Linked DNA regions of Homo sapiens: all the other regions are reported to be linked to region 2. Evidence: microRNA targets listed by miRTarBase, many of them from high-throughput screens and not tested one by one. Region 2 holds a microRNA gene; each other region holds the end of a gene's coding sequence. Distances are between the middles of the regions.

Evidence for each region. The annotated mature microRNA hsa-miR-942-5p reads UCUUCUCUGUUUUGGCCAUGUG and lies in region 2 at 3,178-3,199, shown strand. An mRNA with a match to its seed (bases 2 to 7 or 8) in the 3' UTR can be bound and repressed. Matches are read on the target gene's strand: a 7mer-m8 pairs with bases 2 to 8, a 7mer-A1 pairs with bases 2 to 7 and ends in A, and an 8mer does both.
Region 1: the mRNA of TRIB1 is a reported target of hsa-miR-942-5p. Seed matches in the 3' UTR shown: 8mer at 1,430-1,437 and 7mer-A1 at 2,256-2,262.
Region 3: the mRNA of GNG2 is a reported target of hsa-miR-942-5p. Seed matches in the 3' UTR shown: 7mer-m8 at 2,542-2,548 and 7mer-A1 at 1,916-1,922.
Region 4: miRTarBase lists GATD3 as a target of hsa-miR-942-5p. The part of its 3' UTR that is shown has no 7-base or 8-base seed match.
Region 5: miRTarBase lists ZSWIM5 as a target of hsa-miR-942-5p. Seed matches in the 3' UTR shown: 7mer-A1 at 2,781-2,787 and 7mer-m8 at 1,612-1,618.

The regions. Positions count from the first base shown.
Region 1 is chr8:125,435,927-125,440,762 of GRCh38, forward strand. TRIB1 (tribbles pseudokinase 1) reads left to right here. Exons shown (of 3, transcript NM_025195.4): 3 at 80-2,477. The coding sequence ends at 545. Among named protein-coding and RNA genes, the nearest start is that of TRIB1, 8.0 kb to the left of the region's middle.
Region 2 is chr1:117,091,478-117,096,313 of GRCh38, forward strand. It overlaps MIR942 (microRNA 942), which reads left to right and starts at 3,166; the gene lies at 3,166-3,251. It overlaps TTF2 (transcription termination factor 2), which reads left to right. Exons shown (of 23, transcript NM_003594.4): 17 at 340-473; 18 at 1,254-1,424; 19 at 3,832-3,890; 20 at 4,672-4,822.
Region 3 is chr14:51,965,603-51,970,438 of GRCh38, reverse strand. It overlaps GNG2 (G protein subunit gamma 2), which reads right to left. Exons shown (of 4, transcript NM_053064.5): 4 at 644-3,880. The coding sequence ends at 3,752. Among named protein-coding and RNA genes, the nearest start is that of RTRAF, 22 kb to the left of the region's middle.
Region 4 is chr21:44,143,984-44,148,819 of GRCh38, reverse strand. It overlaps GATD3 (glutamine amidotransferase class 1 domain containing 3), which reads right to left. Exons shown (of 7, transcript NM_004649.8): 7 at 3,109-3,999. The coding sequence ends at 3,871. Among named protein-coding and RNA genes, the nearest start is that of GATD3, 13 kb to the right of the region's middle. RefSeq lists an enhancer at 1,958-2,617.
Region 5 is chr1:45,014,898-45,018,897 of GRCh38, forward strand. It overlaps ZSWIM5 (zinc finger SWIM-type containing 5), which reads right to left. Exons shown (of 14, transcript NM_020883.2): 14 at 1,502-4,000. The coding sequence ends at 3,557. UROD (uroporphyrinogen decarboxylase) reads left to right here. Exons shown (of 10, transcript NM_000374.5): 9 at 43-109; 10 at 440-678. The coding sequence ends at 601. Among named protein-coding and RNA genes, the nearest start is that of UROD, 4.6 kb to the left of the region's middle.

The DNA.
Region 1 (4,836 bases), not on the chromosome of region 2:
GTGGGCGCTGTTATTGGGAAGGCTTTGTTTTTCATAGCAGCTGGTGTGGAAATAATGGCTTGGTTCCTCTCTCTTGCAGAACCCAGCTTAGACTAGAAAGTCTAGAAGACACACACATAATGAAGGGGGAAGATGATGCTTTGTCAGACAAACATGGCTGCCCAGCCTACGTGAGCCCTGAGATCCTCAACACCACTGGGACCTACTCCGGAAAGGCTGCGGACGTTTGGAGCCTGGGGGTGATGCTCTACACCCTTCTGGTTGGACGATACCCCTTCCATGACTCAGACCCCAGTGCCCTTTTCTCCAAAATTCGGCGTGGACAGTTCTGCATTCCTGAGCACATTTCCCCCAAAGCCAGGTGCCTCATTCGCAGCCTCTTGAGACGGGAGCCCTCCGAGAGACTCACTGCCCCCGAGATCCTACTGCACCCCTGGTTTGAGTCCGTCTTGGAACCCGGGTACATCGACTCAGAAATAGGAACTTCAGACCAGATTGTTCCAGAGTACCAGGAGGACAGTGACATTAGTTCCTTCTTCTGCTAATCCCCAAAACCTCAGAAACCTCATAATTCTTAACACCTGGCATTTCCATTTCTAAAGATGGACAGGCCCTTTGGCGTGGTACCAACCAGATAATGACTGCATCAGGATGAAAGCTGCTGAACTCGGCATGGCGCCTCCTCTTCTCTGTTGGGATGAGTGACTTTATTGATTTGAGCAGCATATGCTGTGATTGGCTGCCCTGCAAATTTGTTTCCCTTAAGGAACCCTCACCAACTATCTCTGCTGGATTTGGGAGTTCCGCATCTTTTGTGGAGGGCAGAGTATGGACATCTTACACCCGGTGGTCAAGTGTGTAATAAACTTGAGCATTCGAATGGGAGAAAAAGCAAATCGCACAATGACATATTTTGAGTAATAACCGTATTTTTCACAGGGTGACAAATTGGGCCAATAAATCTGCCATCTTTGAACTCATCTTTGGTGGCTAGACTGCTACGGCAGCTTCTCTGATGGGAAAGTTCCTTTTTTGGCTTAACACTCACCCTTTCTTCACACTCACATTTACCAATGACTCTGCTCCGTTTTTGGAGCAGACTGTTTTAAGTTGCTCAGGAGCCTGATGGAACCATGAACCGAGACTCTTCTCTGTTTCCTGCCAAGACCTCATCTGCACTAATGCCTTCTCCCTGACCTTGACACTTCCCCCTTTAGCTATAAAAGCACTTACCAGCCGAACGTGGAACAGTATCACAAAAGATTCCATCTCCCAACGATTTCAGAACTCTGAGCTCAGAGAGACTCCAGATTTTAAAAAATAATTTGAGTGCTTGGAAACTATTAGCTTTTTAAGTTCCTTCCAAATATGTTAGTACCTACCCTTTACTTTTTCCCCAAGACCATCTCAGGGTGGAGCATTCTGTCTAAGAGAAGAAAGATAAGGAGGCTCCCACCCACCTCTCCCAAGAGCAGACATTAAACATCTTTGTGCTTTGAAGAGAGTGAATTTTGGATAGTCTTGTGATTCTCAGACTAACTTCCAGAATTATACTTTAACCCCTCCCAGATATGGTCCGCCTTTGGCATTGTGTGTACATCTGCAGTTTTGCATGGTGGGTTGTTAATATTTCAAATGTGTGGTTTATGAATACGTCTGTATAATCGGCTTCTGGAGTGAAACAGCAAACCCCAAATCTTCAAAGTTGGAAGGAACTTTAAAAATCATCCGGTCCAATCTCTTTCCTCTTTCTGCCACCTCCCAAGGCAGAAATCCCCTCTTCAGCTTCTTTTGTAGGTGGGAATCCAGCCTCTGTTAGATATGTCCAGAGATGGAAACTCACTCCCCTACAAAAGATGGAGCTTAATGGAGAAATTGCAACTTTCATTAAAAAACAAATTCAGATGAAATATCAGTAACTGTCTTGGACAGTGCTGAAATCAGGTGGTTAAACGGGTAAACAAAATATACTGTATTTTGAGAAATGGCACAAAAACAGGCAGTCATCTTTAAGGGCTATGCCTAGGCAAACTACTAACATGCATTGTGAGAATGCCGTGTATACCTCACGTACTGTGTACTTTGTACATATATTTTACCTTTTATACCTATGTTCGATTTTGTTTTGTTTTGTTTTGTTCTGGCTTTGAGGCTTGTTTTGTTGTCTGTGTCTGTCTGAATAACCTGCGTGTCTAAAACCACGTGAAATGTGAATGATTATTGGCAATATTACCTTGACAGAATCATGGGACTTTGAGAAGAGGGAGGACAGAGGCCTCTGTCGCACTAACGCTCTCGTGGTTGCTCGACTGTTGTATCTGTGATACATTATCCGACTAAGGACTCTGGGCTGGCAGGGCCTTCTGCCGGGAAAGCTAGAAACACTAGGTTCTTCCTGTACATACGTGTATATATGTGAACAGTGAGATGGCCGTTTCTGACTTGTAGAGAAATTTTAATAAACCTGGTTTCGTAAATAGGTGTGGTGAATTTCTTTCGAGTTCCATCTGCTTTGCCTTTTGCAATTTCATGCAGAGGTTGCAAAGGTCTCTGGCCTCAGGACTTACAGTCTAGTTGGGGGTGAGCAGCAAGGGGAAGGTGGAAAAGTAGAGATGATGAGGATCATCGATGACCTTTGGCAGACTTGAACCCATTTGCTTTTCTCATTTCAGTGGGCAAATTTATTTTGATGGATGAAGCCCATTGGGTGTTGATACGTGCTTTGGGTTGAATTTAGACTCGGGAAACATTTTTTATTTTTTATACTCTTTCATAGCAGAATCAGAATCAAGAAACGTTTGAAGGTGAGCATTCATAAATTAACCTTGAGTTGTAAAAATCAGCTTGTCTTTTTTGGGCCGTGGACCCTTGAGAATTTGATAAAGCTATGACCACTCCTGAGAACAGTGTCACATGTATAAAACAAAATTTTGTTATCATTGCAGAGGTTCACACAGATCTCTGAAGGCATCATGGGACTTCCGATTGTGAACCAATCCCTCTTCATTAGACTTAATTAAAATGGCTAAGCAAACCATTTTCTTTTTTTTCTTCTCTTATTTTTTGAGACGGAGTCTTGCTCTGTCGCCCAGGCTGGAGTGCAGTGGCGCAATCTCGGCTCACTGCAACCTCTGTCTCCCAGGTTCAAGTGATTCTCCTGCCTCAGCCTCCTGAGTAGCTGGGACTACAGGCGCCCGACACCATGCCCGGTTAATTTTTGTATTTTTAGTAGAAACGGGGTTTCACCATATTGGCCAGGCTGGTCTTGAACTCCCAACCTCATGATCCACCCACCTTGGCCTCCCAAAGTGCTGGGATTACAGGCGTGAGCCACTGCGCCCGGCCAAGCAAGGCATTTTCTTTCTTTTACTTTTTTCTTTCCATAAGTGTGAAAATGGAAATAAAAGCAAGGAAAATACTAAGGTGACATTAATTTGAATCACAAAAGTAGAGAAAGGAAAAGAGTTTTTTATTGTTTATAGCTTAACTATTTATAGCTTCACTTCAGAATCTAGTCTAAATGAAGTAAATTTGTATCCAGATTGATTTTTAAAAATACTTCACATTGTAAAATGTAACAACAGAAAAATGCACATATAAGTGTGTAGCTCAGTAAATTTTCACAAACAACACACAGGCATAACCAATAGATCTAGAAAGCAAAACACTGGGAGGGCCTCAGGAACCTCTGCCTGCCCTTTTCAATTTTTGCCTGGTGCCTGCTCTAAGCGTAACCACCATGGGATGGGATTTTAATTCTAACCTGTATAAGTTAGGATGAGGACCAATTCATCAACTCTGGACTCATACGAAGAGGCAGACAGAAGTTAGTGATGACACAATTACCCTTTTTTAGGACTCAGGCTGGGATTGGCCAGGAAAGCAGACACTGAAGTTAGAGCAACTCAGGCCTTGTGACCCAGGAACTTAAGAAATGTAAAAGTCATCTCAGAAGCAACGTGGGAAATGGCCAAATGCCTGGGTAGCTTAGGAACTCAGAAGTTGGGGGTTGGTCTCTGGCCATCCCATGAATAGGACTTTAAACCCCAAAGTTCCTGAAGCAGGCCTCACAACAGACCTTGTTGCCTGCTCCAGTGAACCCAGACAAGGCTCAGCGTGACTTCTTGGGCATTCAGGATGCTAATACTTCGGACTTCACCGAGGTTTTAATCTAAGGATTTCAAAAGACTTTGCAAGCAATTAAGGTTATAACACCTCTTTGTACTGTTGTTGCATGAACCAGATGGACAGAAATATGGGTCAGGATTGGCTGGGATGACATGTGATACCACAAATCCATACATTTAATCTCTTCTAAGGTTGGAACAAATCTGGGGCAATTGCAACCAGTTAAATTATATAAGGTCAGAATGAGTGTGCTGAAAAGCTGGCTGCTTTTATTTTCCCCTGTGTCATCAACATACTTGTCATTTGAGGAAGTCATCCAAGTAACATCTCAATAACCTTTTATTCATGTCATATTTTCTGGAAGTTTCTCCTCTCCTCCCCAGGGAGTCACAGCACATGAGTGAAACAGGCAAGTCAAATATTTCCCTGAAGTTGAAAAAACAGAGGCTCAAACGTCTTTCAGTAGCTACTCAGGAGTAAGCAGCTCAGAGCTGGGATATGAACTTGGGTCTTTGGACTCCATGCCCAATGTTGTTGCTCTGCCTACACACCACCACACAAAGTCTCCTGGTAAGAATAATGATGAGAGAAAGTGGTTCAAGACAAATACAAATACTGAATTTTTAGCTCCACAAATGTCTTCAAATGACCCAGTATGTCAATTATAAATGTGTAGGCATTATGGAAGATGAGCAATCCATTATTCAT
Region 2 (4,836 bases):
AGAAATGTGAGGTTATGAATCCTTGGTATCAGAGATTTGGCGTTAACTAAGACCCTCAAACCAGAGTAAAATCTACTGATTGCAAACACGAGATCTGGTGTTTATTTAGCTTCTTTTTAATTGTTTCCTAAATCTGCTTTATTAAAATGCAGGTAGTTCTATAAGGAAAAACCGATATTTCATTTGGCCTAATTGAAGTGGCCTATAGAAGTGAGTTGTAACTATATTATTGAGTCTGAGATCAAACATGGTTAAAGTAGCCCCATGTAGTTCCTGGCTCTCTCCGTATTTCTCTTTTAAATCCTGTACCATCCTGTGGCTTGTCTTCCCTCTTGGAAGTGGCACTGGAGTTTGGGTCTGAGGAGCCTAGACACTCGGAGGCAGCAGACTCACCGAGATCCAGCACCGTCCACATACTGTCCCAGTTGCTGAGACTCCGCCAGTGTTGCTGTCATCTTTCTTTACTGAAGTCGGTAAGAAAAGCCCTCAGCCTGCTGTCATATAGTGCTCCAGAGGGGCCACCTGAGAAGTCAATTTCACTCTCCTCCAACTGGAATCCAGTCTGCTTGATCAAAGGAAATGCTGTTTCGGTTTTTCTATTTTTGTTTTTTGGTGGGTTGGAGAAAAGGGGGCTTATTTATTTTGCTTTATTTCATATTAATCTTGATAATTCCTATGGCATCAAGAATAGTGTATTTCTATTGTTTATTTTGTTTTAGATTAACTGTTTAAGAAAAGAAAATGATATTTTGTTTAAAAAGAAGCCATTTGTGAATGCTCTGGTACTTCAGAATGTCATAAAGCTAATTTAGTTCTTGGGGTTTTCTGCTTTCAGGCAGTTTTGGGGTTTTGGGTTCCAGTTATAAAAACTCAGATAGTTATACAGACTGAAAAGTTGCCCCTACCTTGGATAGAGGCACATCCAAAATTAAGAGGAGTATTCTATTCATTTAAGGAGCTGTAATAATGTATTCTGATTATCAACATCTCAATTATATTCTAGCTTGGAAAAAATAGAATGATTATGTCATCTGCCTGGCAAGTCTTTAAAAAGTTCCATCATTTGGTTTATCTTTAATGTGGTGAAAAAACTTGCAAGATCACACTTTAATCAAGGTGTCTTGAGGAGTTACTGATGACAAATTACAAGATATTTTGCTCTGTGAAGTGGTAAACAATCAAAACATCATCAACAAGTAACAAGGTTTGCTCCCTTGACTCCCAGCTGCTCCTGTCCTTTTTTGTCTGTTCAGGCCCTGGATCCAATGGAACTGAAGGGTGAAGGTCTTGTCCTTTCCCTGGAAGAACAGCTCAGTGCTTTGACCTTGTCAGAACTCCGTGACTCAGAGCCATCTTCCACTGTTTCCCTTAACGGCACCTTCTTCAAGATGGAGCTTTTTGAAGGCATGCGAGAGAGCACCAAGGTACTTTTTGTCTCCTCTGTAGTAGTCGAGAGACTTCGATTCCTCACACATTTTCCTGTGTGACAGCACTTCATTTGTCCAAGTGGGAACAGCCATTTGCCAGCAGAGCTAGAGCCGTTAAATTCTAGCTGATCAGATTCTCCCTCCAGTCTTAAAGCTTCATTTATTTCACAGATAACACTAAAGCCTTACTACATAGGGGACTTTGAGAGAGTAATTTGGGACAACCCCAGCATTGCACTGAAGTGGGTTTTCTGTCATGGGTCACTGGGGAGCTTGCCAGGTTTGTGCTAGGGACGGGGCCTATGCAAGTGAGCAATTTGTTTAGAGAAAGCTTAAAAGGAAAACAAAGGCTTGACTCTAGAGACTGTGTCATACATGCGAGCGCCAATTGCTCTGACTTTGAAAGGCTTCCACATGTGAGTAGTGTTTCCTACATAGCCTTCTGTCTTCATTAGTCATTCTGCTCTGTTTTCGTCAGAGCTTTTTAAGGCAGAAACATTCTGCTGGAGGAAGGCTTAGATATGCCGTAACCTGAATCCTGCCTGTCTGCTGGCTCGGAATGTGCTTCATCATCCTGCCTGTCTTGAAAGTGAGGCTTGTTTCTCTCTTAGCATCTCAAGCTGCCGTTCTTGGGCTCAACCTCTCTTCAAAGGCTTTTTTTGAAAAAGTGTATTAATAACTAGAAAGGTCACTTCCAGGGGAATGGCATTATTTTTTAAAAGGAATGCTGCCTTTTAATTAAAATTTGAAAACATTTACCTAGGTCTTTACCACTGATAGCTGAGAGAAACATAAGAAGAGCATCCCATGTGGCCAGAACACACATGCTAGTGCCTTCAGAGTGAGCTATTGGGCTAAAATTTAAATTCCTAATCATTTGTGTTCCTTGTTTAATTAAATGCAGGTAATATTTATTCACAAGTTTTCTTAACATATGTCCATTAATAGTTCAAACCACATACGGTTGTTTCAAGTAGGGAAGGAGGCTTCTTACTGGAATTTGACCCCGGCTCGTGGGCCATAAATCCAGCCCTCCTGCTGCAGTTTTCTCAAAACACCATGGCTAGCTTTTTCATGTGGGAGTCACAGCGCCTTCCACAATCTCAAGTTGCCAAGACACCAGGCACATCAGTGTCTCTGTTCTATTGTTAACTAAATAACAGATGTAGCTGCTTTTCTGTCTGCTAATTTGAATGGTACAGTTCTGTGACTCACTTCCTGCCTAGGCACCAGAATGTTTGTTAAGATTGGAAAGCAGCCCCATGTGGTGACCACTGTAATGACATCCTAGAATGTGGGAGCTCAGGGCACCTCAGAATTTATCTGGCCTAAGTCCTTCTTTTCACTGATGAGGAATCTGAGTCCCAAAGTGGTCCAGCCATATGAGGACAGAGGAAGAACTTCTGTATATTTGTCTCCTGATTGACTTACAGCCCAGTTTTCTTCCTTCTCCAGCATTCTGGGGGTGAACTCTGGGGCCCTTAGAGGCTCTTGAAAGGTTTTTCACATGAGCAGCTGGGAAGAATGAGCCCAGCTGCACTCCAAAGTCATGCCCCACGTGTTCTTACTGACAGCTCCCCTGTGGACTCAAGTGCACCCTAAGGGTTCTTGGGGAATACCCAGGGAGCCTGTTCGGAAGCTTTAACAATGGTTCCTCCGTCTGGACAGGTCCTTTTCAACAACATTTGGAGCAGGCCATAAAGTGGGTAAAGCTCTTTCACTTTCTTCTTCAGCAAACATTAGGAGAGTATCTTCTCTGTTTTGGCCATGTGTGTACTCACAGCCCCTCACACATGGCCGAAACAGAGAAGTTACTTTCCTAATATTTGCCTCCTTGGAGTGTCTCAAGTCCTGGAAGCAAGAGATAATAAGCAATTAATATACAGTATGACAAGGACCGTGATAATAGAAACAAAAGGTGCTATGATAGTACTTGGGCAGTGGGCACCTAACCTGTACTTTGGGGGTTGGGAGGACCTCCAAGAAGAAGTGACATTAAGCTGACACAAAAGGGTGTTCTAGGCAGAGGGAGCAGAATGGACAAGATGGCCAGTGTGTGATTTATGGGAAGAATTTTGGTGTGCTTGCTGTGTCGTTTGAGGAGGGCATGGTGAGAAACGAACCCAGAGAAGCAGAGGCTGGAGCAGCAAGAATCCGGCAAGCTGCCTTGAGGAGCTTGGCCTTTATCCTCAGTGGGAAGCTATGGAAGGGCTTTAGCCAGAGGGGTGAAGTGACAAACTCACATTTTAGAAAGAGCTTTCTGGCTGCAGAGAGGAGGGTGGAATAAAGACAGGTGAGGCCAGAGCACAGACGCCATGTAGGAGGCTGCTTCGCATGGCAGGTGAGGGGAGATGGAGAAAAGTGAATTGCTTAAACATACAATGTTGATGTAACCTTTTCCCAGATTTCATCTCTGTTGGCAGAATTGGAGGCAATTCAAAGAAATTCAGCATCCCAAAAGAGGTAACTGCGTTTTCTCATTATCCAAGTATTGGTCATAATTATGTGAGAAAATTTGATATTGCCAAGAGTTATAAATCAAGGACTGTGAGTCATGCTCAGCAGAAAGCACTGAGGTTATAGCACACATTCCCTGTGATTTCTAATTAAAATATTTGTGGTACAAATTGAAAAGGAGATCCCTAGAGGATCAGGGTAAGCGAAGCATCTGAAAAAGTGTTTAAAAGTAGAGAAGCATATAAAGAAAAGCAAGCGAGTGAGGAGGCTCCAGCAGTGCTGATAACGTTCTTAAGCTGAGTACTTGGATACAAGGACTCATTTGTTATACCTGACATATGTGCTATACACCTGCATTATTTATAAAATAATTCAATATAAAAATTTAGAACTCGAATTAAGACAGCGTGGGGGCAGGGAGGAGCCTGTTGTTCTGGCTGGCACAAGAAGGGTGGTCAGTGTGTCCCTTTTGTGCAGGACCACAGATTTCTGGATGAGCACTAGGACCCCAAATGAAAGAAGGCTGGAGTCATCACTTTACTCTAGCTACCATTTTTTTCTGACTTCATTTAGCACTAAATAAATTGTAGAAAGGACCTAGAAATAACTGGAAGCATTATAATCTTCAGATATGACCTAAATGTGTGCCTTCTCCCTTAGGTAGCAGAAGGCCTTTCCTTGTCAACATTTGATAGCTAACCTTAAGAATGATGAGGGCATTAAAGCCCTGCAGATGAGTCTGTTTAATCTATGTTAGGGTATTTTTTTATTTTATTCTTCTTTCCAGTGTCATTGTCTCTCAGTGGACCAACATGCTGAAAGTTGTAGCATTGCACCTGAAGAAGCATGGACTGACTTATGCCACCATCGATGGCTCTGTCAATCCCAAGCAGAGAATGGACTTGGTAGAGGCATTTAACCACTCCAGAGGCCCTCAGGTACAAGCTGGTCA
Region 3 (4,836 bases), not on the chromosome of region 2:
ATGGACCACAGTCTGAGAAACACTGATGTCAGTGGAGCACTAGTGTGCAAACTCCAAGTGGCCCCCTTCATCCGTGGTTTAAAGATGCTGCTGTTGCTGGCACAAGTCCCAGGAGATCCAGTGTTTCCTTCTTTACTAACAGGGTCTGTTACTGGCATAATCTGAGGAACATTCAGAAGTCTTTCTCGACTAAGAAGATCTCCAAGGAGCAGCTGCATCTAGAGTTCTAAGGACTTAGCTTCTCCTGTACTCCTTTTAAATCACAGATAGCTACAGAGAACAGCACTTCTGTTGTTCAGTCTTTATTTTTCATAAGGGAAAAAGCCCACTGTGGCATACCTGCAGCAAGTGAAAGTGTAAATACAGCTCCTCTGTCTGCATACTCCACCCTATCAGAGCCCTGGGCTCTCCTCACAGCCCCCACCTTTCTCTGTCCCCAAAGGCTGTACCCAAGATGTACAGACCTAGTAAGAAATGCTTTTAGAGTGTCAAGTGAGTTTTTTCTTCTTTCGGACATCTCTATTAACAAAATCCTAAAGAAAATCAATGGATTCCTATTTCCTCATCCATTCATACCATCAGATCCTTCTCAAATTGACCACAGAATCAGTGGCCGTCACAATGAAATTGACTGCATATGAAATGAATCTGAAAATTCCATTTATTAAAACACATACATTGTCCATGTGGGATGAAAATGTGCACATCACATTCAGGTTTTCCTGCTTTAACATTTCTGTAGTTCTCTCTTTGAAACACACACTCCACAGATCTTATATAGGAAAAATGTGAACAACTTTTGGGCTGCAAAACATTAATGCATACATAACAATTCATCATTGCCAAGAGCAGCTAGAAGCAAATATTAAGGAAGAAAGACAAAGAAGTATAAAAATTCCTAAAGACAGCATGCTTTATTTTCTCAAAATTCCATATGTGACTATGAGCGTATGGAGAAATCGTTTGATTTTTAAATTTATTGTTTTGTCCTTGGTAGGCAATCTCCTTCAAATATTATTAGCAAAATCAAACATAGATCAAAGTATGTATTTGCATCTTCTGATTGAAATTAAACAGTACTTGGTTTCAAATGTTTTAAAAATAACACTTTTTAAACTGGAGTTGATATTGAGGATCATGTAAAATTATTCTTTATAGACTTTGCATTCTAAATATGAAGTTTATTGTTACTACTTATTAGTTAATTCCACGGCAGATTTTCATTTCTATCGAATATATTATATGTAGAAACTAGGGCCTTAAATAATTAAGCTGACTTTTCCTATTAGTTATTCCTTAAGATAAAATTATGCTGGTGAAAATGACTGTTGAATTTCTCAAGAAATTAAGCTCTATAGAGGCATAAGTAATCGAAAGACTTTTTCCCCTGAATAAGTACAAATACCAAGAAGCCAAAACTCATATAAAGATTTTCGTATTATAATTCCATACTGTAAGACATAAAATTATGAAAAAGCCAAAACATTTTCCTTAAAATGCTCCCTAGAAATTGTAATTCCATCTTAATTGCTCCAAAGATCTAGATTTACATGGAAATATAAAGAGTCCTTCTGAGAAAAGGAAATGCTGTGAATAGTGGAAATCGTCTGGGCCTTCTAATGATGCCTCAGTCACCACCAAAGAGTGTTTTATTCATTCATCCGTGTTTTCATGTGACCACATACTCAATTCATGTTTTGGCCCATGTAAAAACTGTGATATGTTTTAGCTTATTCCATAGTGTTACTAAGCTAATTGTACAATGCTGTAGTTTAATAAATACTCTGCTGTTTTTTTCACCCCTAAATCTTCATGGGCGTCCTAACTGTAACAAAAACCCCACAATTTGAACAGAAGAACAGAAGTATCTGGTTACAGAAGTGCATTCATACATTTCACAAATGTTTCAGTATCCTCTTCTCCCCGACCCCAGCATGAGCTTTAATTGGATGTATTTATTCTTTCACCAGCATGCCCATGAAGGAGCTAAGGAAAACATTTACCAAGTCTGTTTCAAAATCTGTCCTTGGCATATCAAACTTTTTCTCTTCCTTTTTCATGCTTTTTTTTTAAAAAAAAAACAGGAGAAAGCGAATAGAGAGGAAAGAGACAATAAAATTAATTGGGAGATGGAGATGATATTTGGGGATTTGAAAGCAAACAAGATGTAAGAGAGGCCCTCTTTGACTGAAAATGACACAGAAAAAGGTGATCAAGTCTTCCAGGGCCTGCTGTTACTGATGGAGACTACAGCTACAATGAAAAATTACTCTCACTACCATATCTTGGGGAAGGAGCGCTCTAGTTGCAAGGAATTTGTAAATAAAGGCCGAGAGACTCTAACAAACAAGATGGAGAACAAAAACAAAGATTCCATTAAAAAATTTGTTAAGTGAAAAACCAAGACCATCTCAGTGGACAAAAGAGCCAGAACTCTTCCTCGTAGAGCCGGCCGTGGGGACCGCACCTGCCGCCCAAAGAGTGGCGATTTGAGGTCCTTCTCCCTGGAGAGTGAATAGCTGGAGTTCTGAGAATGGTCACCTTCTCTGGAGCTGTGGGTTTATTTCTTCTGATACTTGAACAAAGGAGGGCCATGGTTTTCTTGTTAAGAGCACAAAAAAATGTTCTTTTAATCTAGAATGTCCATGATTCAGGGAAAGAGGGAATTTGCTCATACTCATGGCAAAAGCATTTCCCAGCTCATGGTGAATCCTTAACTCTCCTGCTTGGTGACAGCTGTGCTGCCCTGGGTCCTGGATAAACCAAAATGCTTTGGATTCTGGAAAACGTATTGAAGAGGCATTTATACCACTATTAACTAGGAGGTATTTTAGGTGTGGCTAAGGCTCTGAAGTAATCTCAATTTTCAAAATACTGAGATTTTCTTCCCTCTCCGGGGTCTTTTCCCTCTCATTTCCTTTCCCAGCTTTAGAGTAAAACAACAAAACTTCTGAATGGATGTAACATAGGGACATTTTCATGCAATATTACTCAAAAATTGTCACAAATATATGAAAGCACCAGTCACAACACAGGATTTACTTTTACTTGCAGAATCAAAGCTATCATGTACACATGTTAGGAATAGTGAAAAGAGAACACAGACAACCGGCATTTTTTGTCGTTGTTACCATGAGGATACACCACGGGGAACATCTCCCTAAACATTTTGTGTGATCATTCTTGGAGTTCAATCTGATAGACCAGTCCAGCCTTATCTCCACACTACTCTAATGGGGAGGGGTGGAAGGAGGGGTAGAGGAGAAGGAAGAAAGAAAAAGAAAGGCACAGTGACTATACATCAATGCCATTAAACCGAATTGCATCTACACGGGACAGCTCAGCTTATCAAAGGGTATTCTAAAGACAATATTCATTCCAAGAAGGTCACACATATCTTACCTCAGTACAGCTGTCTGTTTTAATTGTTATTTTTCAAAATATGAAGCAGAAACATGAGGATTTTGGGGGGGGGGCTGGGGGATAGCAGAAAAGAAGTGACACCAATTTTATTTTTATATATTCCCCTCCTCCAGGCAGTTCGTCAGAATCAGATCTCTTAAGTCAGGATGTGGATCGGCTTGCATTCTCATAAAGGGGACCAGATCTTTAAACATGCATAGCCTAGAGTTTCCAGAATGGTTCTCCTCGCTCTCTTCAAATGCCGTGGACTAGAAAGGTGCCCACTTCACTAAAAACTCTACATCAATGTCCCAGGAGCCCGGAGGCTCTTCAGGCCCCTCTCAAAGACTTAAAGGATGGCACAGAAAAACTTCTTCTCCCTAAACGGGTTTTCTGAAGCCGGAACAGGGGTCAGGAGGGGGTCTTCCTTGGCATGTGCTTCACAGTAGGCCATCAAATCTGCAGCTGCCTTGGACACCTGGAAAGGGAGACAAAAACAACCAACACTGGAGTCTGGTACAGTCAGTCAAGGCCCAAGGCTTTAGAGCCCAATGTCCTGGCATCAAATCCTTGCTCCATGAAGCAAGATACTCAGCCTCTAAAAGCTTCTGCTTCCTCATCTGCAAAGAAGAAAGTTGACGACACTGACCTTACAGGATTGTTGCCAGCAAGTCTGGGACTAGGTTAAGGTGAGTGAGGCACTTAGGGTGCAGAACCGAAGGAGGCACTCGCTGGCAGGGGCATGCAGGTGTCAACCCTGCACTTCCATAGCCCCGCAGGTGGCTGTCTCCTTCATTTGTTTTTTTTTTTTTTTTTTTTTTTTTTTTGAGATGCAGTCTCGCTCTGTTGCCCAGGCTGGAGTGCAGTGGCTTGATCTTGGCTCACTGCAACCTCTGCCTCCTGGGTTCAAGCAATTATCTTGCCTCAGCCACCCTAGTAGCTGGGACTACAGGTGTGTGCCATGGTGCCTGGCTAATTTTTTGTACTTTTGGTAGAGACAGGGTTTCACCACGTTGGCCAGGCTGGTCTTGAACTCCTGGACTCAAGTGATCCACCTGTCTCGGCTTCCGAAAGTGCTGGGATTACAGACGTGAGCCACTGTGCCCGGCCCTCCTTCACTTTTGTGCTCCGATATCTCATTGCCCCACCCTGGTCCCAGCCCTGGTAACAAGGGTTAAATGAAAAAATCCCTGTAAATCATTTAGTGTCTGGCACATAGCAAGCTTTCCACACAGGCTAGCCATTATTATCATTTTGTAGTCGTGACTCTCTGCTTCAGGAATTGTGCTAGGGATGCCTAAAACCATGTCAATTTCCCTTTTTAAGCAGATGCAGCAGGAGATATATCTATGTATACACACACTATATAGAACATATTTTTATACTTCATATATATTAAAATTTATACCTGTGACTTTAACCAAGCATTGTGCC
Region 4 (4,836 bases), not on the chromosome of region 2:
CATTTTGCCATGAAGCTAAGACTGCACTAGAAAATAAAGTCTATTTAAAACAAAACAGAAAAGGTGATGTTGAGGGAGCCCTAGAGGAAGACGCTGGCCAGCAGTAGGTGGGAGGGGCCTGGGAGAGGGCGGGCACCAAGGTGGGCGTGTCAGGTCCGTGAGCCTTGGGCCTCGCAGCACGCACTGGCCTGCTCATGCCCAGAGCCCACCACCTCAGAGCCCGGGCCTGGCCGGGGAAGGTGGAGGGCACCCATGAGGCCCCCATCCTCTCTCCTGACACTCCCAGTGCAGTGGGGAGACAGATGACAAAGCTGTGATACATGTGTACTCACAGACCTCGAGATCTGTGCAGCGAGTGGCCCAGGGACCCCTCCTCAGCCAGGGCGTGCTGGGAAGTCCTCTCTGCAGAGTGATGCTGAGAGCCGAGAGACAAGGGGAGCCAGTAATACAAAGAGGGGGGCTGGTCGTCCCAGGAGGGAGGGATGGAAGGTGTCAGGACCAGATGTGGGGAGTAGGCATGAACCCGGTCTAGGCACAGGAGAGGAAGGGGGTGGCTTGGACATATTTGGAGGCAAAACCCATAGCTGGCGGCAGAGGGAGGGGCAGGGAGAAACAGGTGGCTGGGACCAGTTTCTCATGGGGATCTGGGCACATGATGGCCCCCAAGACAGAGACAGGAAGAAGTACGCGTGGGGGGCCCAGTCTGGATATGCTGAGTGGGCGGTACCCCACTCCAAGTGTAGTGCACAGAGAAGGGCTGGAGTTACAGGCCTCCTTGGGCAGGGGTCTGAGACAGCAAGGAGCTCAGGGGGAGAAAGGGAAGGAGCAGCCTTCAAGAGAGCCTGGAGGTCAGAGCGGAAGACGTCCATCCCCAGGTAATGAGGGACTGGGAGGGACAGTCAGACCAGGTCTGGGGAGAAGAACACCAGGAAGGAAGAACAGGTGGGAATGGAGAAGCAGCTGGGAGTGGTGGGGGGGTTGGGGGTTGAGTGTGGAGGAGCTGGGAGTGGTAGGGGTGCTGGGGGTTGAGTGTGGAGGAGCTGGGAGTGGTGGGGGAGCTGGGGGTTGAGTGTGGAGCAGCTGGGAGTGGTGGGGGTGCTGGGGGTTGAGTGTGGAGGAGCTGGGAGTGGTGGGGGTGCTGGGGGCTGAGTGTGGAGCAGCTGGGAATGGTGGGGGAGCTGGGGGCTGAGTGTGGAGCAGGGGACTGAGTGTGGAGCAGCTGGGAGTGCTGGGGGAGCTGGGAGTGGTGGAGAAATGGAGAATGAAGAAAGGATTATCAGGGAATGGGGCATGTCCACAGGTGAAGCTCTGGTGACCTGGACAGGAGGTGAGGAGGTACCCTGGAAGGAAACAAGAGGGACAGGGCAAAGGGGTGGGGCATGTGGAGACCAGAGAGGGCTTCAGGAGAGGATAGCCCAGACTCTGATGGCACCAACAGGAAGCAGCTTGGTGAGGGGCCGCCTGCCCGTGGTCAGCCCCAAAGACAGTTCTGCCACGCCCCCTGGTGGCAGCACCTAAAGCCACAACCACGTTCCAGGGTGCACAGCCTGTGGGATGCAGAGGCCTCTGGGATGGCAGGACGGGCTGGTCCCGGGAACCATGCATGTCACCAGCGCCCCTCCCTCCCCACGCCCTGACCTTGAACCCCTGGTTAGCTCCTGTTCCCACTGGACCCCTTGTCCCCTTCCTTGATCACTTTATGCATGCCTGGCACTGCCATCCTCCTTCCCAGCATGTCCACACCCCCACCACTGCCAGGGGGACTCCATGGCTCACCGGGCCACATACTGGCTGCCCCCACCTGAACTCCAGGACGAGGGCATGCTCGTGACAATGCCCTTGGTACCTGAAGGTGCCTGGCACGCAGCAGCCACGGAGTCACTGTCCAGTGAACCCAGGACCAAACTCTCCTGCAGTGAACCCAGGACCAAGCTCTCCGGTTCTGTCACGGCCCCTCTCTGGGCTTCCCAACGTCCCAAGATCTATTTCTAGGGCTGGGGTTCTGGTGCTGCGCTGCCCGGAGCTGAGTCCCAGCCAAGCCCTACAAGCTGCAGGGCCCTGGGGGGAGCAAAGCCTCATCTGCAAGTGGGGACACTGAGGACCCACAGGGCCACCTGGGCTAAGGGCAGATGCAGGTGAGGACAGGCCTGGCCCAGCAGAAGCACCTGCGTGTGGGGCGCCACACTGGATCACCTCAGAGAGAGCGCGCAAACAAGCACGCAGCCAGTGCCTGCAGGAGGCTGAGAGGCTCTGGGGACAGTGCCACCGTTCCAGGCCCGAGCGATGGTTTTGCGTATTTGCTTTGTGGAAACCCCAAAGTGAATGCTTGTGACTTGTGCACTTTTCCATACACTCACACACACGTGAATAAACATGCGTGGTATACGGGTACCCCCCCTCCAGCCATGCAAAATGTGTCCCTACCAGCCTATGAGAAAGGGGAGGAGCCCCACCTTACCCTGGACATGGGAGGCTCCTCCGCTGCTGGGGACAGGGTAATCCTGGCCCCAAGGCGAGTGCTGTGGGCGTTTGCAGCGGGCGTGGGCGCCCGTGAGGACTTCCTGAGGCCCGGCCTCCGTGGGAGGAAGGCCACTGGAGAACCCAGCTCCCACGGAGGAAGAACCAGAAGTGTCCGGCTGAGACCCGATGCAGGGTGCACCGGGGCCTTCCTGCCTTACCCATGGGCCCCCCACGCCCTCTCAAGGCGGTAGAATGAATCCGCTGATTCCATGCAGTGGGTGGGGAGGGCCGAGGGGGTGTGGTGGGTACCAGTGCAATTGAGGGTTCGAGTCTTGTGGGACCAGGGCCTGCACCCCCATTCCGGGCCCAGCACCTGACACACAGGGAGGTGCAAACCAGACCACACGGAACAGCCACGCCAGCAGCCAGAGTGGGCGTTTCCCACACCGCCACCCAACACTGGGCAGCTCCTGCCACCCACCCAGCGTGGGGCCTCTCAGGCTGGCCTGGCCCTGGCTGCTCAGGCAGAGACAGACCCAAACAGCAACAGATATGTGACACTGAGTGAAGCGTGCAGACACCTGACTCCCACCCCAAATGTTTTCTTCCCCAAACAACCCTGAACACACAGATGAATGCAGCACAAAGTCTAACGCCAACACACTTTATTTCCCTTCGGACGCATCTGCAAGCTTCTGCCACACCTGAACCCACGGCCTGGCACCAACGCTACCATCACTCCCCAGAGGTCAATCCTGGGGGCTGAGGGGCTGCAATTTCCCTTTCTTCCTGAAAATTAAGAGAACTGAGACTAATTGAAGAAACCTCACTGCCATTCCTCACTCAGCAGTCTCAGCAGGTCTGAAATGTGGCTGTGGGAAGTTGCCATTTTGGGAAGGCGTTTATTCTCTGCGGCTACAGGGATTGCCTGCTTTAGAAATCCCCTTACGCTGATTAACTCAAAAGTCCCTTCAGAGTCAAGAACCAACCTTTCATGGTCCATAAATGTGGTATTTCTGGTTTCCTGATCAGGAGGCTTGCAAACCTAAAAATGTTCTTCCTTCCAAAAACTAACTAACCTGAAGTATAAAACCTCAGACGGCAGAATTTTCTATTTCTGGAAAAGCTGGCTGCGATTTGTTTTTGGGACACAGTGAGGCAAGTCCCTGTGGCAGAGAACGAATTGGCCCCTCGGCCTCTGTATGTGAGAGCAGCCCAGCCACACCCAGGAAGAAACATCCCCCATGCACTGCAGCACATCCTCCTTAGAGAGAGAACGCCTGCAGGTTTCGGCAAAGAAAAAAAAAAAAGGGCCTGCCAGACTCCCAGCTGGATGGAAAGCAGCCGACAGCTCCTCAGCCAGAGGGTGAGGCCAAGTCCTGGCGCCTAGCTGGGCCCCGTCCATGCGCGTCACTTTCCAGTGAGTTCCAGCACCTTCCTCACCATGGCTCCGATCCCATCATGGATGTAGTGGAGTGCCGTCTCGCACATGAAGGCTGGGGTCGTGACCACCTTGTTTTTCTGGTCCACGTGAGCTTCGTGTGCAGAGTTACGGAAAAAGCCACCCAGCACGGACCTGAGGGACTTTCAGGTGTGGAGCCCCGGCCCCTCCCCCACCCTCACCGCGTGTCCTAACTTTGTTCTCAGATAACTTGGAAGAGGAGAACTCGCTCCTGGTGCAGTCTGTGCCGGCAGGACCCTGCTTTCTGTATGATTTATGCTGCTGAACAACATAAGAAGGAACCTGTTCCCAATTCACATGCATTCTAGAGGAAGAAAGCAGCGGGAAATTCCAGGGAACGGGGCACCTTTCATGCCAGCATCACACAGGCCCAACACCCACACATGGCCACGAGCTGCCCCGCCATGGGGGCGCACACATGCCTGGGGTGCTCACAACCACCACGGGAGGCAGTGGCAGCACCTCCGCTTTTCAGATGAAGAACTGGCCGTGAAGGAGCCGGTCCTCATGGGGCAGGGCAACAGGCAACAGGGCAGCAGGTGGCACAACTGGGGCCGGCCAGCCACAGACCTGAGCCTCCCCAACACCATGCATGTAACCACTGGCCAGGCCTCCACACCACCCAAGACACGTGCCCCTATCTTCCTGCAAGCAGTCAGAGGCCTGGGGCCAGCCTTGCACTGCGCTCCTGCCCAGCAGGAAAGCCGCAGGGAGGGAGATGGGGCCTGACGTCTGAAGCTGCCTGTGAGAAAAAAGCTGCCCCATTGAGAGGAACTGCACCCTTCAGAACAACACCTGCAGGGGACCGGGTCCATGCTCTACTCATTCCAGTGCCTTCCGGCACCCCGGAGTGTTCTGTTCTCTCAGTTGGGCTCACATGGACATTCTCCCAGATCCAGGCAGGGCCTTCCAGG
Region 5 (4,000 bases), 72 Mb from region 2:
ATGTATGCAGTTACCAGAACGTGGCGCTGGCTTTGCTTCCAGGGAGTGTGTGGGGAAGACGGTGACATTGCAGGGCAACCTGGACCCCTGTGCCTTGTATGCATCTGAGGTAACAGCCAGGGCCCCTCTGTGTGTCTGTTACTGTGCACTCCTGTGGCTGTGGCTGTATTATTCTGTGTGCACTTGTTTTTAATGTCTGTCTGTCCTTTTCTTCTACTCTGTACAACATAAGCCCTAGAAAGACCGGACTTTTTGTTGCTGTTGTTCATTTGTGTTTATGCTTCATGCCTGGGTCCATACTAGGGATCTGATAAATTTTATTGAATGACTGAATAACACTGAGTAGAAGCATGCCTACATATGCGTTTGTCACTAGTATATATAGGGAGGACAAAGGCTTGCTGGTCCTCCTGTAGCCAGTGCCCTGTTGGTCCCCCAGGAGGAGATCGGGCAGTTGGTGAAGCAGATGCTGGATGACTTTGGACCACATCGCTACATTGCCAACCTGGGCCATGGGCTTTATCCTGACATGGACCCAGAACATGTGGGCGCCTTTGTGGATGCTGTGCATAAACACTCACGTCTGCTTCGACAGAACTGAGTGTATACCTTTACCCTCAAGTACCACTAACACAGATGATTGATCGTTTCCAGGACAATAAAAGTTTCGGAGTTGAACTATTGTGTAGTTTTGTTTGTGAAAGATTGTGCCCATATCCTCAGTTCTTCTTAGCCTCTGCTCCTTCCCTGGGAACCCTCTCTATATCCTCTTCACAAGTCATGGGGGTTAGGTATCAGTGAATATGTACTATAGCACTTAAGGATTCTCATTCCCATCTTACTCTCAGATACCTAAGTCCCAGAACTACATGGGGTAGGGTAGAGCTTTCCTAGCAGTTCAGGTTGTGACATTTGCAGAAAAACGGGTGGGGTCCTCACAACATACAAAGGCCAAATTGATAGGGCTTTATGTCTGGGGAGAAAGGGAAGTATACATCAAAAAGGGGCACAGAAGGGGTTAGAACACTTCAGAGAGGCATGGGGAAGAAGATGGAGTCTAGGCAAGCAGGGAGAAGCTGAGGGACCCTCAGCTTTGACACCAAAATATATAGAGGACATGAAAGCTCAGAGCTAGGTTGCTTAGGATTGGAGCTTTAGACAAGTCGATCATCACCAAAGCAAGAAGTCCTCTGAAACCAAAAGACCCTCTGGCAACTCAAGGTTGCTTTATATTCTTTTCTGAGCATCCCCTTTAATTTTCTCAAGATCTTGGTTATTCCACCCTTCCTGGTGGTACCTGCTTCCCAGGACAAGGCTCTGAGGTGTCTGTAAGCCCTGGGGAAGGGTCTGGTATGGCAAGAAATTCTTTATCTGTCAGTCATTCTGCATCTCCTTAGACCACTAGGCACCCACTGTGCTGTAGGCTGAACCAGCTCCCTGGCCCAGCCAGGGCAATGCAGAAAGGAGAGATGGGTTTCATTTAGTGAGAGAACACAATTTCTGCTTTTAGAAAAATGATCTTTTATGTGATCCATGATTTATTCATAGAAAAGCACTGTGAATTCACACACTTGCTAAAAAAGGGCAACTGTGATACAGAAATGAGAGTGGCTTCTCTCTTTTTTTTAACCAACCCATTGGGCTGAGACGTAGGGGCCCTTGGCTGGACAGTAAGACTTGAGTAGCCACAAATGGCAAATACAACTTCTTGGTCAGTTTGGAGTAAAAAAGGTGACAGTTTGTCGAAGAAAGAAAAAGTAAAGCAGATGGAGAAGTTCTTAGTTCACATTCTAGCTATACCACCCCTTCCCTATCAAACCCCACCCCCAACTCAGGAACTAAGACATGAAACAGTAAACACCAAGACACTGGTTCCAACTGACTTTTCTGAGTGCCCTTGCTACCTCCTATAACAATTCCAGGCTGAGCACAGGGGTCAGGAAGGTAGCAGGAACATGATACACTATGGAGGTCAGCCAGGGCTAAGACAGGACTGCCCACTAGGGCTAGAAATTAGGAAGGGAGAGGCTAAGTGCAGACCAGCCCTAGCCTCCAAGTCAGCGAGCAATGAGACTGTGACAAAAGCCGGCGAGGAAGCTTGAGGTAGAAAGGCAGGGGAAGAAAGCAAGTATGAGGCGAGAAGAGAACTATGGAGCTAAAGCAGCCAATCTGATGGCAGAGGGAGATTGGTGCTTAGAAGCTTGTTTGGTGAGAGAATGAATAGAGGAGGCACAGAGATGGGGAACAAACGTTTAGCTGGCGAGAGAGATTTAAGAGGAATGGGAAAGAGAAATCTGGCAAAAAGGACACATTGATGCAGATCCTCAAACATGAATACACAGACATCCCTACATGTAGAAATACGCTCAGTTACACATATAAAGACACAGATGCATGGATAACAAGCATACACATGGATACAAACATGTTTATACACATGCACTCGTGTACGCAGATACACATACTAAACATGCACAAACATGAGTGCATTTGCACAAAGATGTGCATCCTCACATGTACACAAAATGTGTATATCCTCACGTAGAAACTCACAGTCCAGTGTGCACATATTCAAACAGGTACACAGCCATAGAACTGACACATACACATAAATATATATGTGCACAAACAGGCATGCACAGATGTATCTATGTACATACACACATGTACTTAGCCATAAAGATACACACACACAATTATAGATGAAACCACACACTTGCTAACACAAAGGTGACCACAGTAGATGAATATTATGAACTCAGCGGCTTCCCAGACCTTCATCTTCTCCCTGCACTTGTTTCTCAGGTGTTCAGCAGGCTCCTGAAGAGGCTGTGTGAGGCAGGAGCTTCAATGTCCTCACAGTTTTGTGAGGCAAAAGTCTAAGTCCAGTCCTGGCCTCTGTCCCTCACTCACCACTGGACTATAAATGCCCTGTCTGTAGGTGGGGGATTCTGCATAGACTAGACTTGGGTTGATCCTAACTGGCCATTTTTCTCCTTGGCACCCCCACTCTTCCACTGCTACCAGCAAACACTCTGCAAGGGAAACCTGAGAAATGGTTGTGAGTCTCCTCAGAAAATAAGCATATCCTCCTACCCACAGCTACTTCAAGTGCCCATCAAATCAGAAGCAGAATTATAAATAGTTACAAGTTTACAATAATTAGCAACACATATAGTATTTACAGTCCCACAAATGTGTCTGTTTCTCTGGTTAAGCAATCCCTGAGATGGAACAGTGTTCTGTGTTTGCCAAGGGAGACAGGGCCAATGCTCAGGACACGCAGGATATAGGGGCATGAGGTGGCATGTTGTGGGGTTTCTGGTCGATCTGCAGGGCCCAGCTCCTCCATGAACAGTAGGCTGTAGTCAGAAGCTTGCCAAGGTAGGCATTATCGACTAGAGCTGGACTTTCCCCATCCTTAGCCCTGTGGTCCTTTGGCCTCATCCACAGGTGCTCAGAGTTCTCTCAGGGTGGACAAATGTTTCAGTGCCCTTGGCCTGACCTGATACTACCTGGGAACCCAGGCTGCTCTGGCAGTGAGCTATCTGCTCTCTCAGCCAAAGCGCTCTCGCACCAGCAGCATCAACTTTTTCTTGCCTTTGTAGATCTGTTTGAGGTTGTCGATGAACTGGGCAAACTGCAGGTGGCCATCCTGGGGCAGCAGGAAGGTCTCCCGAGCCTTGCTTAGAAACTCAATGAACTCTCCATAGTGGCGAGGGCTGATGTGTGTTAGGCGTGAGTGTGTAGTGTTGATATAGGCATTGATGGTGGCATCCAGCAACTGGCGCAATGGAGCTTTGTCAGTGGACATGAGCTTTCCAGAGCTTCGGCGGCCTGGGATGCCGGCCAGGCCAGGTGCAGTCACTGTGCAGCGTCGTAAGATGTCTGAAAGCACTGTGGCACAGTGCACACTCTTCACCACCAGGGGGATGAGAGCTGCCAGCTCATTCTTGCCCAGAGAGTGGCTGAGAGCACAAGCCCAGAGCACATCATTGAT